4 linked regions of the Homo sapiens genome follow. The protein of the gene in region 3 interacts with the protein of the main gene of each other region in a biochemical or structural test. Each region holds a gene or a part of one and is shown on either strand. Other genes may lie near its edges.

Region 1 (3,500 bases), on a different chromosome or scaffold from region 3:
GTAACAATAGCTCACTAAAACTGTGATGTTTAACCAAGAGGAATTGTGGCAGGTGGGCAAAGGAGAGGAAGGGAAGAAGGTGCTTGACAAAGCCTCCCAAGGGCATCCCAGCAAATCTGAATATATAATCCACAATTTTAGAGCTGCTAGTTCTTTTTTGGTATCTTCATTTTACAAATGAAAAAGCATGAAAATGTGATGATAAGAGATATTTTCAAGTTGCTCTACTATTTAGTGGAGATTTTTATATTACAATTGAATTATTTTTGTTTGCTACCTTTTGACATCATACATGGATATAGTCTTCAGGGCAAATGTTTTAAGCAAACAAATCAAAGCTAGGGATCGAAATTAAGATTTACTGCTTTCCAAATTTGAAAGATATATCTGAAAGTAAGAAACTCAGAAGTCTGCACCTAGCTTCCTGGGTCTGCTCTGGGAAGTAAGCTTTTTCAAGGTCTAGGCTGGGCCCCAAAAGGATGAACAAGGTGATTACAGATTTTCATGGCCCTGTGCCTATCCAAAACTCTTTTTGATCTGCCATTAAGATCTGAGATCAACCCTGTAAAGGTCTCTGGGTGGCTATGGTCATTGTAAGTTCTTATTGACTTTGGTCCCAGTCCTTGATATCCTTCACTTAATGAGTACCTATCATAAGCCAGACCCTATTGTGGGATTGGTACACACTGGTGTGATAAAGAGACATAATTCTACTTTTTGTGGTAATTAGAACCTACTAGGAGAGGGAGATTAAAATACACACAGAGGCAAATATTAATTCATTCAATATTCATTTATCACCTTCTATATGCAAGATGCTGGAGGAATACCAGAAACAAAAGTTTCTGCTTTTGTGGTCCTTACGAGTCTAATGGGAGAGATGGATGATAAGTAAGGGCTTAATTAATTAATTTAACAAATAAATATTGTGCACCAGACTTACGCCAAACATTGTTTTATACACTGTGCCAGTGCTAATGGACAAAATAAATAAAATCTAATGGCATTTGCATGCTAATGAGAGTCACACAATGAACACACACATAAACAACTACAAGTGCCAAGGAGAAGAAATAAAACTGGGTAAAGGAGAGTGCTATAAATGGGGGCTGCTGTTTTAGATGTGTTAGTAAAGGAACACCCTCCTGAGTCAGTGACATTTGAGAAGAGTCCTGTAGAAAGTGAGGAGGCAAAGTTGCAGATACCTGGGGAAATGTCCTCAGGAGGGGGAACTCCTGTGCATACTGGGAACAGCCAGGAAGGTCAGTGTGAAAAAGTGAGAGAGGGAAGAATATGAAAAATGGGATGTGTAAAGTTGGTAGCCGGGGGTCAGATGATGTAACTCATAATTAGAATTTCAGATTAGTTGAAATTTGAAGTGCTCTGAAGAAAATAAACATGTGGTTGGAATAGAGAATAACAGAGAAGGGCCTGTTTGGTTAGCATTGGTCGAGGAAGGCTCACTGAGAAAGCAAAATTTAAACTACGTTTTGGTGTATTAGATTAATAAGATCTTTAGGAAAAGCATTCTGGAGAGAGTGAAGAGTATACATAAAAGCAGGTCCACAGTCACAACTTATCTGTCTTTCAGTTTTTACATTTATAACCAAGAAAATGATCAAAAACTGAAATTACCAAGAAATAATAACGCATTAATTATGCATCCTGGGGTAGAAATTTAATTATATATTAAGAAAATCTATAGATCAGCTTTTTGCTTCTTTGTATTACAAGGCTAAAACATCATATATTATAATTCGATTTTTAGAAATATACTGAGCACTGTAATTTACATGTCACTATGCATAAATCTACATGTTGAATCCAAGTGGTCATAAGAGGAGATATATTCAATTTTAGTCCAATATTTTATGTTAGACAGTGGTATAGAAAGTAGTACATGTCATTTACCCTTGTAACAAAGAGAAGATACTGATAAGGAGATTAGTGTGGAATTCTTCTCTTCCAGACCTTAAAATGTTCATAGCAACTCTTCTCTACATCAGAGGTTAGTTTGCTCAGATTTTAATCTTTAAAACCAGGAATGACCTTCAGCTAAACTCAAGGGAACAAAGAAGAATGCAATCCTTAATACTTAACACGTGGATATTAAAGAACATAGAAATGCTTCAGGAATTAAAGACCGCATGGATTTAGGGACTTTCTAAAGTATGGTAGCTCCAATTCTCCTTCACTTTTCATCTCAAGGTCAGAGAAGATAATACAAAATAACTCTTCAAATTTTACTTTTGCTTACTCTGTTCCCTTAATTTTTAAGCCAAATGGCTCTTGAATACTCATGGCTTATGAAGGAATAATACAAAACCAACTCTTGGAGAAAAATGAATAATTAAAACATTTCTAATACTTTCCTTATGACATGATTAGTAGCTTCCAATCTGCATTTAAATGCTTACATAAGATACAAGGTTGGTATTACTATCATCTAACTTTTCCGTGAGTTAAATTCATTTTGGACAAGTTGCAAAAATGAAAATGGAAATCTTTATTTCTTGGCTTCTAAAATAAGTCGTAATTTAAAATATTGATTAAACAAATCCTAGTGTGCTTTTCATTTAAGACAAATCAAACTTTTGTCCTTTAAAAAATCTGCTATAAAACCAAGAACTTTTATTTTGTGGATTTCAACCTTATGGAAAACAAGTATAAGAACAAAAATTGAATGCAAATAACTATCCCATGGGTGCCACACTTGTCATAGAATTTGTGATACATTACAATTTTTCTCTTTTCCCTTTTCACTTTTCAAGGCAGGCAGAGCTTATTACTTCATGCGTCTTCCGATTCAAGCCCTGGGAAGCCTATAGGTTTTCTAATCAGCTTTATTCACTGGTTTTTATAAAATCTGTATTTGCCAGAAAATTGCTTTTGCTTACACTCCAGAGGGGTTTGCCCCTTCTCTTGCTCCTAGTTTGTTTGTTTGTTTTAATTTGACACGGAGAAAGATTAAGGAAGAAGGAAAATAAAAATTAGGTTAGTCTTTATGTCGTTTTCAAGATGTATGCCCTGGTGTTTTGATCAGGGGTAGAAAAGAGGAGGGCTGACTATATTTTATGTCTCTTGTCCTAAATCCTTCCCATAGCAGCAGCCGCATGTGTTTTAGTGTACAAACAAGTAAGCGCTTGCTTGCTCTCTCATATTTTCTCTGGGCTCCAGCAAATATTAAAAAATTGAACTGAACTTTTTTATTTCTTTGTAAATCAATGAGTGTTTCCTTTCACACTATATAGTTACAAAACACTCCAGGAGTTTTCCATTTTTTTTTTTTTTTTCTTTTTGACAGAGTCTTGCCCTGTTGCCCAGGCAGGAGTGTGGTGGTGTGATCTCGGCTCACTGCAACCTCAGCCTTTTGGGTTTAAGCGATTCTCTGGCCTCAGCCTCCCGAGGAGGCAACAGGCAACACCACCAGGCCCAGCTGATGTTTTTGTATTTTTTAATAGAGACGGGTTTTTGCCATGTTGGCCAGGCTGGTCTGGAAC
Region 2 (3,500 bases), on a different chromosome or scaffold from region 3:
TTGTCTTCCTGGTTTTCTCTCTAAAATTATAGAGTACCCACATCTAACAAATACCACCCTGCTTTAGACGCTCTAAGAGAACTCAGATTAGCCGGCAGAAGAAACATTTACATCTGCCCATTTTTCTCTCTTTTGGTATTTCTATGATGGCAGATGTTCCTACCACAAAGAAATGATACATTTGATGTGATGGATATGCTGATTACCCTGATTTAATCATTGCACACTTGGGTCTCTTTATGCCATTCACCCTCTGATGGCAAAGCCGCAAGCGTCAGGCTCTTGTTCTATTTGGTTCCCTACTCCTGCGTGGATGCAGCAGGGCCCTCATGGACCTCTCAGTCCCAGTATCTGGCCAGTGGTGTGTGGGTTTGGCTCACACTGGGGGATGTGAATGATGTACTTCAGTGTAAAACAGTCCAAGTGCCGAGCTCAAGAGGCTTCCTTTTTAGTGCAGGGGCTGAGGCTAACTAGGGAAAACATACAGAATACGAAAGCTGGGATACAGGTCTACACCGAGCTCTGGCTGTCTTGACGAATTCAGAGGAGTGGGAGAGTGAGAAGCCAGATTATCCCAGGAAGACTTGACAGAGGAGGTGGGGACATGAATGGGGCTGACAAGGGGAGTTTGGCCAGAGAGTGAGGAGGAGGAAGGTAAGGAAGACAATGGAAGAGTACCGTTAAAATGTCCATACTACCCAAAGTCATCTATAGATTCGGTACAATTCCTACCAAAATTCCAATGACATTTTTTACAGAAATAGAAAAAAAAAAAACAGTTGTAAAATGTGCATGGAACCACAAAGGACTCTGAATAGCCAAGGCAGTTTGAGTGTAAAAAAAACAAAAGACAAAACAAAACAACAACAACACAACAAAAACAGGGCTGGGCATGGTGGCTCACGCCTGTAATCCCAGCACTTTGGGAGGCCAAGGCGGGTGGATCACCTGAGGTCAAGAGTTCGAGACCAGCCTGGCCAACATGGTGAAATTCCCGTCTCTACTAAAAATACAAAAATTAGCTGAGTGTGGTGGCACACGCCTGTAATCCCAGCTACTTGTGAGGCTGAGGCAGGAGAATCGCTTGAACCTGGGAGGTGGAGTTGCAGTGAGCCAAGATCATGCCATTGTATTCCAGCCTGAGTAACAGAGCAAGACTCCGTCTCAAAAAAAAAAAATAATAATAAGGTATTGCATTTATTGAAATAGCTAGAAGAGAGAATTTGGGATGTTCCTACCACAAAGACATGATACATTTGATGTGATGGATATGCTAATTACCCTGATTTAATCATTGCACAATGTATATATGTACTGAAGTACCACTTTGTGCTCCATAAGTATGTACAATTATGTGTCAATTAAAAAAAAAAAAAGGCAGCTGGGCACGGTGGATCACGCCTGTAATCCCAGCACTTTGGGAGGCCAAGGCAGGTGGATCACTTGTCAGGAGTTTGAGACCAGCTTGGCCAACATGGTGAAACCCTATCTCTACGAAAAATACAAAAATTAACCAGGCATGGTGGCATGCACCTGTAATCCCAGCTACTTGGGAGGCTGAGGCACGAGATTCGCTTGAACCCAGGAGGTAGAGGTCAGTGAGCTGAGATTGCACCACTGCCTTCAAGCCTGGGCAACAGAGCAAGACTCTGTCTCAAAAAAAAAAAAAAAAAAAAAAAAAAGGCAACAGAATGAAAGCAGAGAAGCAAGAAAGAGCCTGAAATCTTGGAGGTGGCAGGGCAAGGGGATGTGTGCCAGTGGACAGTGGGAAGTCATCTAGGAGGTGGGTTCCAACAGCCACTCACTCCTGAAAGTGCCTGTTCATAAGGCCCTGCATAGTCTTGGGCTAATCTTCCACCTCAGACACACAGCATCTTGCAACAGGGAAAAAAAATCTGGCATCAGAAAGAACAAAGCTATTTTCTTAGGAACTATGGGTCTGAGGTTGGAGTGAAAAATGAAGTTCCATGAAAGCTCTTGGTTTGAGAATTAAGTCAAACCAACTCTTCCCCAAATATTATGTTCGTTCCACAGCTCTCACATAAAATCATCTTAATTGCATTTTTTTAACCTGCTGACCTTGCTATGTGAATAATTAAGAACTAATTATTAGGACTCAGCCCTGTGCTAAGAGGTTTTCCAATAATTAAGGAGTTAACACTGTGCTAAGAGTTTTGTACACATTTAATTTTCCTCCTAACACTGAGGTATGTCCTGTGACCATCTGCATTGGAAGGATGAGGACGGAGAAACAGCGTGGTTAAGCAATGTGTCTGAGGTCAGAGTTCACAGGTGGCAGAGCCAGCGGTCGCCCCAGGAAGCTGGCTCCACAGCCCATGCTACTGCCTAAACCCTGACTATGTGGCCTCTGTGTGGAGAGCCCTTGGCAATCAAAAGGTTGGATCGTCGAGATCCCCATGGAGACCGTACTAGCTACTAGCTTTCCAGGCCCACTGTGGAAGGCCAGGGGCCTGCCAAGACTCAAAGCCACGTGCTCTTCTCCTTCTCTGCTCAACCTTTTTTGAACTTCCCCTTAAGCATAATGTTCCTGCTTCTGGTGACAGCAAATATGGGCGGTAGTGCGGGTGGTGGTGGGGAGTAGCAATGACACAAAAGGAGGGGATTTAAACTCTGTTTTTAAATTTCATATTCAGGCCGTGGGCGGTGGCTCATGCCTGTAATCCCAGCACTTTGGGATGCTGAGGCCAGGCAGATCACTTGAGGTCAGGAGTTCGAAACCAGCCTGGCCAACATGGGGAAATCCCATCTCTACTAAAAATACAAAAATTAGCCAGGTGTGGTGGTGCACGTCTGTAATCCCAGCTGCTTGGGAGGCTGAGGCAGGAGAACTGCCTGAACCTGGGAGGCGGAGGTTGCAGTGAGCCGAGATCGAGCCACTGTACTCCATCCAGCCTGAGCGACAGAGCAAGAATCCGTCTCAAAAATAAACAAATTTCATATTCGCTCACTGAATAAACCTAAACAGGCAATTCATGTTAGCAATTTGACTTTATTGCAAAGTCTGTAACTTAAAAGGTCTTCATCTGAGGGAGACGAGGTTACACTGAGGCAGCCTTTGGTTGTCACCTTTCAAGACAACCTTTTCTCTGGAAACGTTCGAAATGCCCAATCATGGGAGGAAGGTTGACTCGTTACAGCACATCCGTGGGGTGGAAGGCCCAGCAGCCTCTCCAGGTGATGTCGGGTGTAGAAGAGCCTGCAGGATAGCAGTGCGGTTTCCTAGAGTAGGCTATGGGTGTGCTGACAGCAGAGTGGTCAGTGCGAGGGACAGCCTGCTAGGTCAGGCCCATGGGCTGAGGAGCAGTCTTACTGATGCCAGCAGGCTGCTCAAATATTATTTCGTGTGGATGTATGAGGTTTAAAAAGGTTGTTAGGTACTGGTGACTACCACAGTGGATTTTTTTTTTTTTTTTGGCAAAAAGACAAAAAAAGCACAGGACTATATATTTATTCACACCCATATACGCACAAGACTCAAA
Region 3 (4,014 bases):
ATAGTGTGATTCAATTTTATAAAACAAATCCCATCGATATCTTCTACAATACATCAAAATGTTAGCAATGATTATTTCTGGCTGGTGGCATTATGAGGACCTCTATTTTCTTCTTTATAATTCATTTTCTGAATTCTTTTCAATAGCATCTAGTATTTTTCTACTTAGAAAAAACTAGAAAGCTTTTTTGCGTTGGGAGAGTAAAGCCAGTCACTGCGCTCTACTACTCCACAGCATGTTTTTTTGTTTGTTTGTTTTGGTTTGGTTTTATTTCTGTTGTTGTTTGGGTTTTTGTTTGTTTGCTTTGCTTTTTTGAGATGGAGTCTCACTCTGTCACCCAGGCTGGAGTGCAGTGGTATGATCTCGGCTCATTGCAACCTCCGCCTCCTGGGTCCAAGTGATTCTCCTGCCTCAGCTTCCCGTGTAGCTGGGACTACAGGTGCGCACCACCACATCCAGCTAATTTTTGTATTTTTAGTAGAGACAAGGTTTAACCGCGTTGGCCAGGCTGTTTTCGAACTCCTGACCTCAGGTGATCCACCCGCCTCGGCCTCCCAAAGTGCTGGGATTACAGGCGTGAGCCACTGCACACGGCCTTCACAGCACTTTTGAGAGGCTTAAATGACATAGTGCATGGCACTGCCATGTGTGGTAAAAAGGAGAGCCCTGTCCTTATGCTGGCCTACTCAGTTCCACCTTGTAGGACCTGCTCTTTGAACTCAGAGTCTGAACCTACAGTACCCATGTTTGCCCTTGAGCCTTGGGACCAACCTTAGGGGTGGGGTAGGGCTGAGGGCCTGCCAGAGAATCAAGCTGAGTAGAAAAGTCTATGGAGCTGCAGGCCATGCAGGGCTGCTTGGGCACTGGCTCACCAGGGCTGTGTTTATGCAGCTTACTCCCTGCTGGGCTTCAGGGCTGCTAGCCAGGGACACCTAATTGGTGGGACAGAGCCCCCTCCTCTCACCACCCTCAAAGCTGGAATGTTCTGAATTCCTTCTTGGGCCAAATCCCCCTCCCCACAAGGCCTCTCCTGGGTTCACAGAGGTCACCACACAAAAGCCCAGCTGGAGTGGAGTTTTTGACAGAAAAAAAAAAACACACACAGAAAACCCACCAAACCTTTTTTTTTTTTTTTCTAAAGTGCCTCAATCTTTCCCAGCCTCCAGGGGTTTAATTCTGATCTGTAATAAGTCTCTGACCCACGGCTCAGATTTGCAGATGGATTTTGCAAAGCTGTGGTTAACGATTAGAAATCCTTTATCACCTCAGCCCGTGGCCCCTTGTACTTCGCTCCCCTCCCTCAGGATCCCTTTCTCCCTCTCCAGGGGCATCTCCCCCTCCAAGGCTCTGCAAAGAACTGCCCTGTAAGTATCTCCATCCTGATATAGTTGCTGCCTTTTAAATTCACCGAGGTGGGCACTCTTCCTTCCTAGTCACTATCCATTCACCCCATGGTGGAGCCAGGCTGGGCCACCTTGGGTTTCTGAGTGAAGGGTATGGGAGGGGAAACTCCGGTGGCATTTGGGTTGGTGGTATTTGTTCCCTCAAAGCTATCACAAAGGTTCAAATCTTTAAAACTTCAGGACCAGAGAAAGCACTCTCCAAATCAGATATTTTCTGGTTTGGGGGCTTAAAAGGACTGGGATAAAAATTGGAGGAAGGGAGCCACAGTTTACCCCTCTGCCTAAGTGTAGGGGACTGAGGAGTGGCAGAAGGGGCACTCCCTCACAGCCAGCTCCAGTGCCCTCCTTGGCATGAAGGCTCAGGGAGGTAGCAGAAGGTGGGTTCCTAAGTGAAGTCATAAAGTTTCCCCATGAGGTCCTTCAAGGACTCTCCCTCACTGGTCTGCAAGTCTGTCATTAGAAATTCCTTCTTTCGACTGAGGTATTACTCTCTTCAAGTGCCCTCTTTGAAAATGCAGTTGGAACCAAAACATTCACAGCACTTATGGCCGGGGAGATCGTAGGCGATTTTTGTTTTCTAAATTCTGCCTTTCTGTGTTTTCCAGTGTTCTAAAGTGAGAATGCTTTACTTTGATGATCAGGACAAAAATCAACTTCTTTTTCAAACAATAAGAAAATCTCTCAATCCAGTTGCAATTCTCTGAACTGCCATCAATCAATTGATGTAGAAGGAAAGATGAACTGCTCTAAGGACAAACTTTCAAGAAAGTAGGGCCTCAAGGGAATGGCTTTGCCACCTACTAGTGCCCTTGGCAGCTGGAAGTGAGTTTCAGAGAAGGGGGCAAGTGTCTCAGATTCTTATGAGGGGCAGTGAGATCAAGGGATATAGAAATGAGGCTGACTGACAGAAGAGGGCTGTGGTGGCCATCATCACCCCCAGAAGGCCACATCAGTTCCTTCCTTGAGCCTGGGAACCCCAAGTGCCCTGTCCCATGTAGTCTTAGGAGGGTACTGCCAAAGAAAGAGTACCATGCACAAGACTCTTGGAGCAAGAGATGGGGAGAATAGCAGGGAAAGTACCTAGGTGAGAAGGGGTTAAGTCAGGAGCTGCGGTCAATCTTGACCCTCCTAATCCTCTCCTGCAGCTCCAATCTCCCCACTAGGGAAGATTAAGTAAGGATCCTAAGTTAAACTTTCTTGCCCAGTCCTTGGGCCATGGAGTATGTTGGCCCTATGCCCAGAAGACAAATTCAGCTGACAAGGCCTAGAGTCCTCTGTACCTCCAACGCAGCCAGTACTTGACTTCTAGGAGGATCCCTCAAAGAGAGGCTTCTATTAAAACTGGCTGCTTCTAATAACAGCTCTTCAGTCTTCTATATTTGTCAAAGTGGCTTCCTGTCCCCATGCCTTTATTTGAGACTAAAAATCTTGGAGATGACAAACTAGGGCCTAGAGAAGCTATAGGACTTCCTCAGCAGGTTCTAGGCAGAACTGACACAACAAGAAGCTAGATCTTTTGATTCTAACACCAGGACCCTGTCTGCCCTCACCTCTACTGCTCATCAGACAAACAAAAACCTGGCTGAATCCAGCCTGTCTCACCACCCAACCATTCGCCATTTAGCTGGTCTTCCTAACTCTGGTGGAAAGCTGAACCCCCCCTCCATGGGGCCATTTCTATCACTTGAATAAGCTCCAATAACTTGTTCTTCCTCCTGCCTGGGCATGCTGCTATGCCAAGTCAGACTCTAGAGATTCCAAGCCTCAGTAATGGCATTTTCTTGACTCTGCCCTCTCCCTCACCCCAAAACACTTGCCTACTTACTACTACTTAGGACAGGCTCTGGGGAGAGGCTTTCCTCTTGGGGACACTGTTGATTCCCTTGGGAAACTCAAGCTTGACTCTTCAGCTGCCATCCCAGGAAGGCTGAAGCAGGAGCTGCTCCTCTGGGAAGCAGTAGGTCTTCCCCTTGAAAACCTCAAGGTATCTCACCAATTCTCACTGAAAGCTCAGATACAAATAGGAGGAAGAAAGGAAAAGTATTGAACCCAGCCTGGGTGAGGAGCAGGGAGGGCCCAAGGATGGTTTCAAGGCAAGGATGCATCCTCAAAGATGATTTGCAATTATCCAAGCAAATGGTGGATGGTAGAATAGCATGCTTACGGGCTTGGAGACAGAGAGAAAGGCAGTCAGAGAAATTCAAGTGCTTAGGTTTGGCTGGATCATATGTGTATGTATAGGAGCATAAAGCATGAGGTTGGAGGTTAATGGTGTGAGATGAGGCTGTGAAGAAAAGCCGGGGTGAAATAATGGAGGGCTTTCTTGGTTTCCTGGGCTAGCAAGTTTGAACTTCATCCTGAAATACTTAAGAGCTCTGAAGATTTTTTTTTTTTTTTTTTTTTGAGACAAAGTTTTGCTCTATCGCTCAGGCTGGAGTGCAGTGGCACAATCTCGGCTCACTGCAACCTCCACCTCCCGGTTCCAGCGATTCTCCTGCCTCAGCCTCCCTAGTAGCTGGGATTACAGGCACATGCCACCACGCCCAACTAATTTTTGTATTTTTCGTAGAGACGGGGTTTCACTATGTTGGCCAGGCTGGTCTCAAACTCC
Region 4 (2,387 bases), on a different chromosome or scaffold from region 3:
CAAGTATGTAGCAGACGATGTGGTGGAATAATCTGAGGTGATGGTGCTGACGTTGGCCAAAAACTCGCTATGTTTCGTTTCTGGACTGGTTGATTTCTTCATGGAAAACCTTGCCAGGGAGGCCTGGGAAGACGTGCTGAGCAAAGTGCCAGAGTCAGAGCCTGTCTCTTCAAGGTGGGAGGACTTCTGTGCCAGAAGTGACCTGGGGCTCTCTTTCAGGATGGCAAAGCGACAGCTGAGAGTTGGTGACTTGTTGTGTTTTGAGTTGTGTGGTGGTGAGGGTTCTTCAGAAGGCGTGCTCTCTTTTCCTAGTGATATCTTTTCATCTTTTGTCGTGCTGGGGTCTTTCCTAGTGCTGTTTTCTTTGGCAATGATGATCTTCTGTTTTCTGCCCAGTGTCTCACTTTCTTTTTTGGACTCCTCTTTAGTATCATTGTGACACTGTTCCACATTTTCTTTCTTAAAAAATACATTGTCCAGTTCATCTTCTGAGCTGCTAGGCTGTGCTTTTTCTTTCGGCTTCTTCCTCTTGCGACTAGCAGCTGCAAAGATGGAGGACACAAGCAGTTCCCTGCTATACTGATCCTTTCCAGATCCCCAAGAACCCTGGGAAGCAAGAGAGAAGAAAGACTCTGAGCATAAGAATGCAGCTGAGTTCATTTTCTGACAAGCTTGTCTCCCAAATATTTCTTATCAAATTATATCTACTAAAGCTCTGGAAGCATTAACAGTGCAATTAGCTTTTTTTTTAATACCTCTTTTTACCTTGAACCAAAGTCAAATTTTTATTTAATGAGTCCAATTTCTTGCCTCGTGGTATTTAACTGCCAAGCCACAGCTCATACACATCTGCCTTTCAGGAAAATAGTCTGTGCTTAGTGCTGATTCCTATCAAAATCCCCCAAACACCTGACCTTCCCTCCTTCCACAGTGCCCAGGCATTCTTCACTTCCTTCATTTGGAATAGAGGCATGGGATAGGTAAAACAATATTGTGACACGGTCAAACATCATATTCTGATATAGGTTATTAAACATCACATTCTGATATAGGTTATTAAATGTTTATGACTGACTTTGATTTTTCTAATTACAGGTACCACATGATATAGATACTGTATCAGATAAGCTCATTGAGATAAGGGAACTCTGGTCTTCCATTAGTTCATTCAGGCAGGATCTTCAAGGATCTGCCTTAAGTAAATCAGGTTGGTAATGTCTTCATTTATCTCAAGGTAACAATGGAATTAGAATATTCAAAAAACAGGCCAGGTGTGGTGGCTCATGCCTGTAATCCCAGCACTTTGGGAGGCTGAGGCGGGCAGATTGCTCGAGCCCAGAAGTTCGAGATCAGCCTAGGGAACATGGTGAAGGCCTGTCTCTACAAAAAATTAAGTGGGCATGGTGGCACGCACCTGTGGTCCTGGCTACTTGGGAGGCCGAGGTCAGAGGATCACCTGAGCCTGGGGAAGTCAAGGCTGCAGTGAGCATGAGGGTACCATTGCACTCCAGCCTGGGTGACAGAGTGAGAACCCACCCCAGGAAGGTAGAAAGGAAAGATCAATTAACATAAGTACAATTAAATCCTTACCACAGAAACACTGTAGTGCAGTGTTATTGGGAAAGTTATTTGCTATGTATAATAGGTTCTTTTAAAAAAAATTTTTTAAGATGGAGTTTCACCATGTTGCCCAGGCTGGTCTAGAAGCCTTAGTCTCAAGCTATCCTCCCACCTCAGCCTCCCAAAGTGCCAGGATTTACAGGCATGAGCCACTGCATCTAGATATAATAGGTTCTTGATTGCAACTATTAGTTTCTTCCTAAATATCTGCTGGTTTACCACACACTTTTTAAGACAAGCAGGTAGGCAGGAGGTATGCTGAGTAATAGAAACAGACAGTATATTTCTCTATTGCCTGCAAATCTTAGACAAGTTAAAACTGCTCTATTTAAAGTCTTAAAGTAAAAATTTAGGCTGTTCTATCAAAGAATTTAGGCTGTTCTATCAAAAATTCGCTAAGATGAAATCACAGATGAACAGAACTTTGTTTTTACAAGTTATAAAGACTTTCATAATTATCCAGCACATTTCTAATGGTTATTTACATTTCCCCACATTGTGCTGAAGACTGTAGGGGATAATGGTTGTGACTGGGCTCTCAATTGGGAGACCTTGATGTCCATCCTCTCTAGCTTGCTGGGTACGAGCAAGGGATTCACTTTTAAACATCTCAGTTCCGTGGCGAGAAGCAATTAGATTATACTGTCTTTCAGATTTCCTTAAGGTTCTCTTTACAATTCTATGATCATATATGTGTTGAGGCAAATTACTCTACTTTTCTACAGAGACTGTTTGTTAGAAGTAGTTAATCATGTCATTGGGATATC

What was found.
Region 1: the proteins of CLDN2 (region 3) and LIN7A interact in a test that uses a peptide from one of them, tested with the Homo sapiens proteins (one large-scale study listed by IntAct).
Region 2: the proteins of CLDN2 (region 3) and PDZD2 interact in a test that uses a peptide from one of them, tested with the Homo sapiens proteins (one large-scale study listed by IntAct).
Region 4: the proteins of CLDN2 (region 3) and ARHGAP21 interact in a test that uses a peptide from one of them, tested with the Homo sapiens proteins (one large-scale study listed by IntAct).

The regions. Positions count from the first base shown.
Region 1 is NC_000012.12:80,931,435-80,934,934, reverse strand, and holds part of LIN7A (protein lin-7 homolog A), read left to right. Parts: intron 1-3,500. UniProt on the Homo sapiens protein: Plays a role in establishing and maintaining the asymmetric distribution of channels and receptors at the plasma membrane of polarized cells.
Region 2 is NC_000005.10:32,083,131-32,086,630, reverse strand, and holds part of PDZD2 (PDZ domain-containing protein 2), read right to left. Parts: intron 1-3,500.
Region 3 is NC_000023.11:106,919,188-106,923,201, forward strand, and holds the start of CLDN2 (claudin-2), read left to right. Parts: upstream 1-1,214; 5' UTR 1,215-1,364; intron 1,365-4,014. UniProt on the Homo sapiens protein: Forms paracellular channels: polymerizes in tight junction strands with cation- and water-selective channels through the strands, conveying epithelial permeability in a process known as paracellular tight junction permeability.
Region 4 is NC_000010.11:24,585,501-24,587,887, forward strand, and holds part of ARHGAP21 (rho GTPase-activating protein 21), read right to left. Parts: intron 607-2,387; coding exon 1-606. UniProt on the Homo sapiens protein: Functions as a GTPase-activating protein (GAP) for RHOA and CDC42. Downstream partner of ARF1 which may control Golgi apparatus structure and function. Also required for CTNNA1 recruitment to adherens junctions.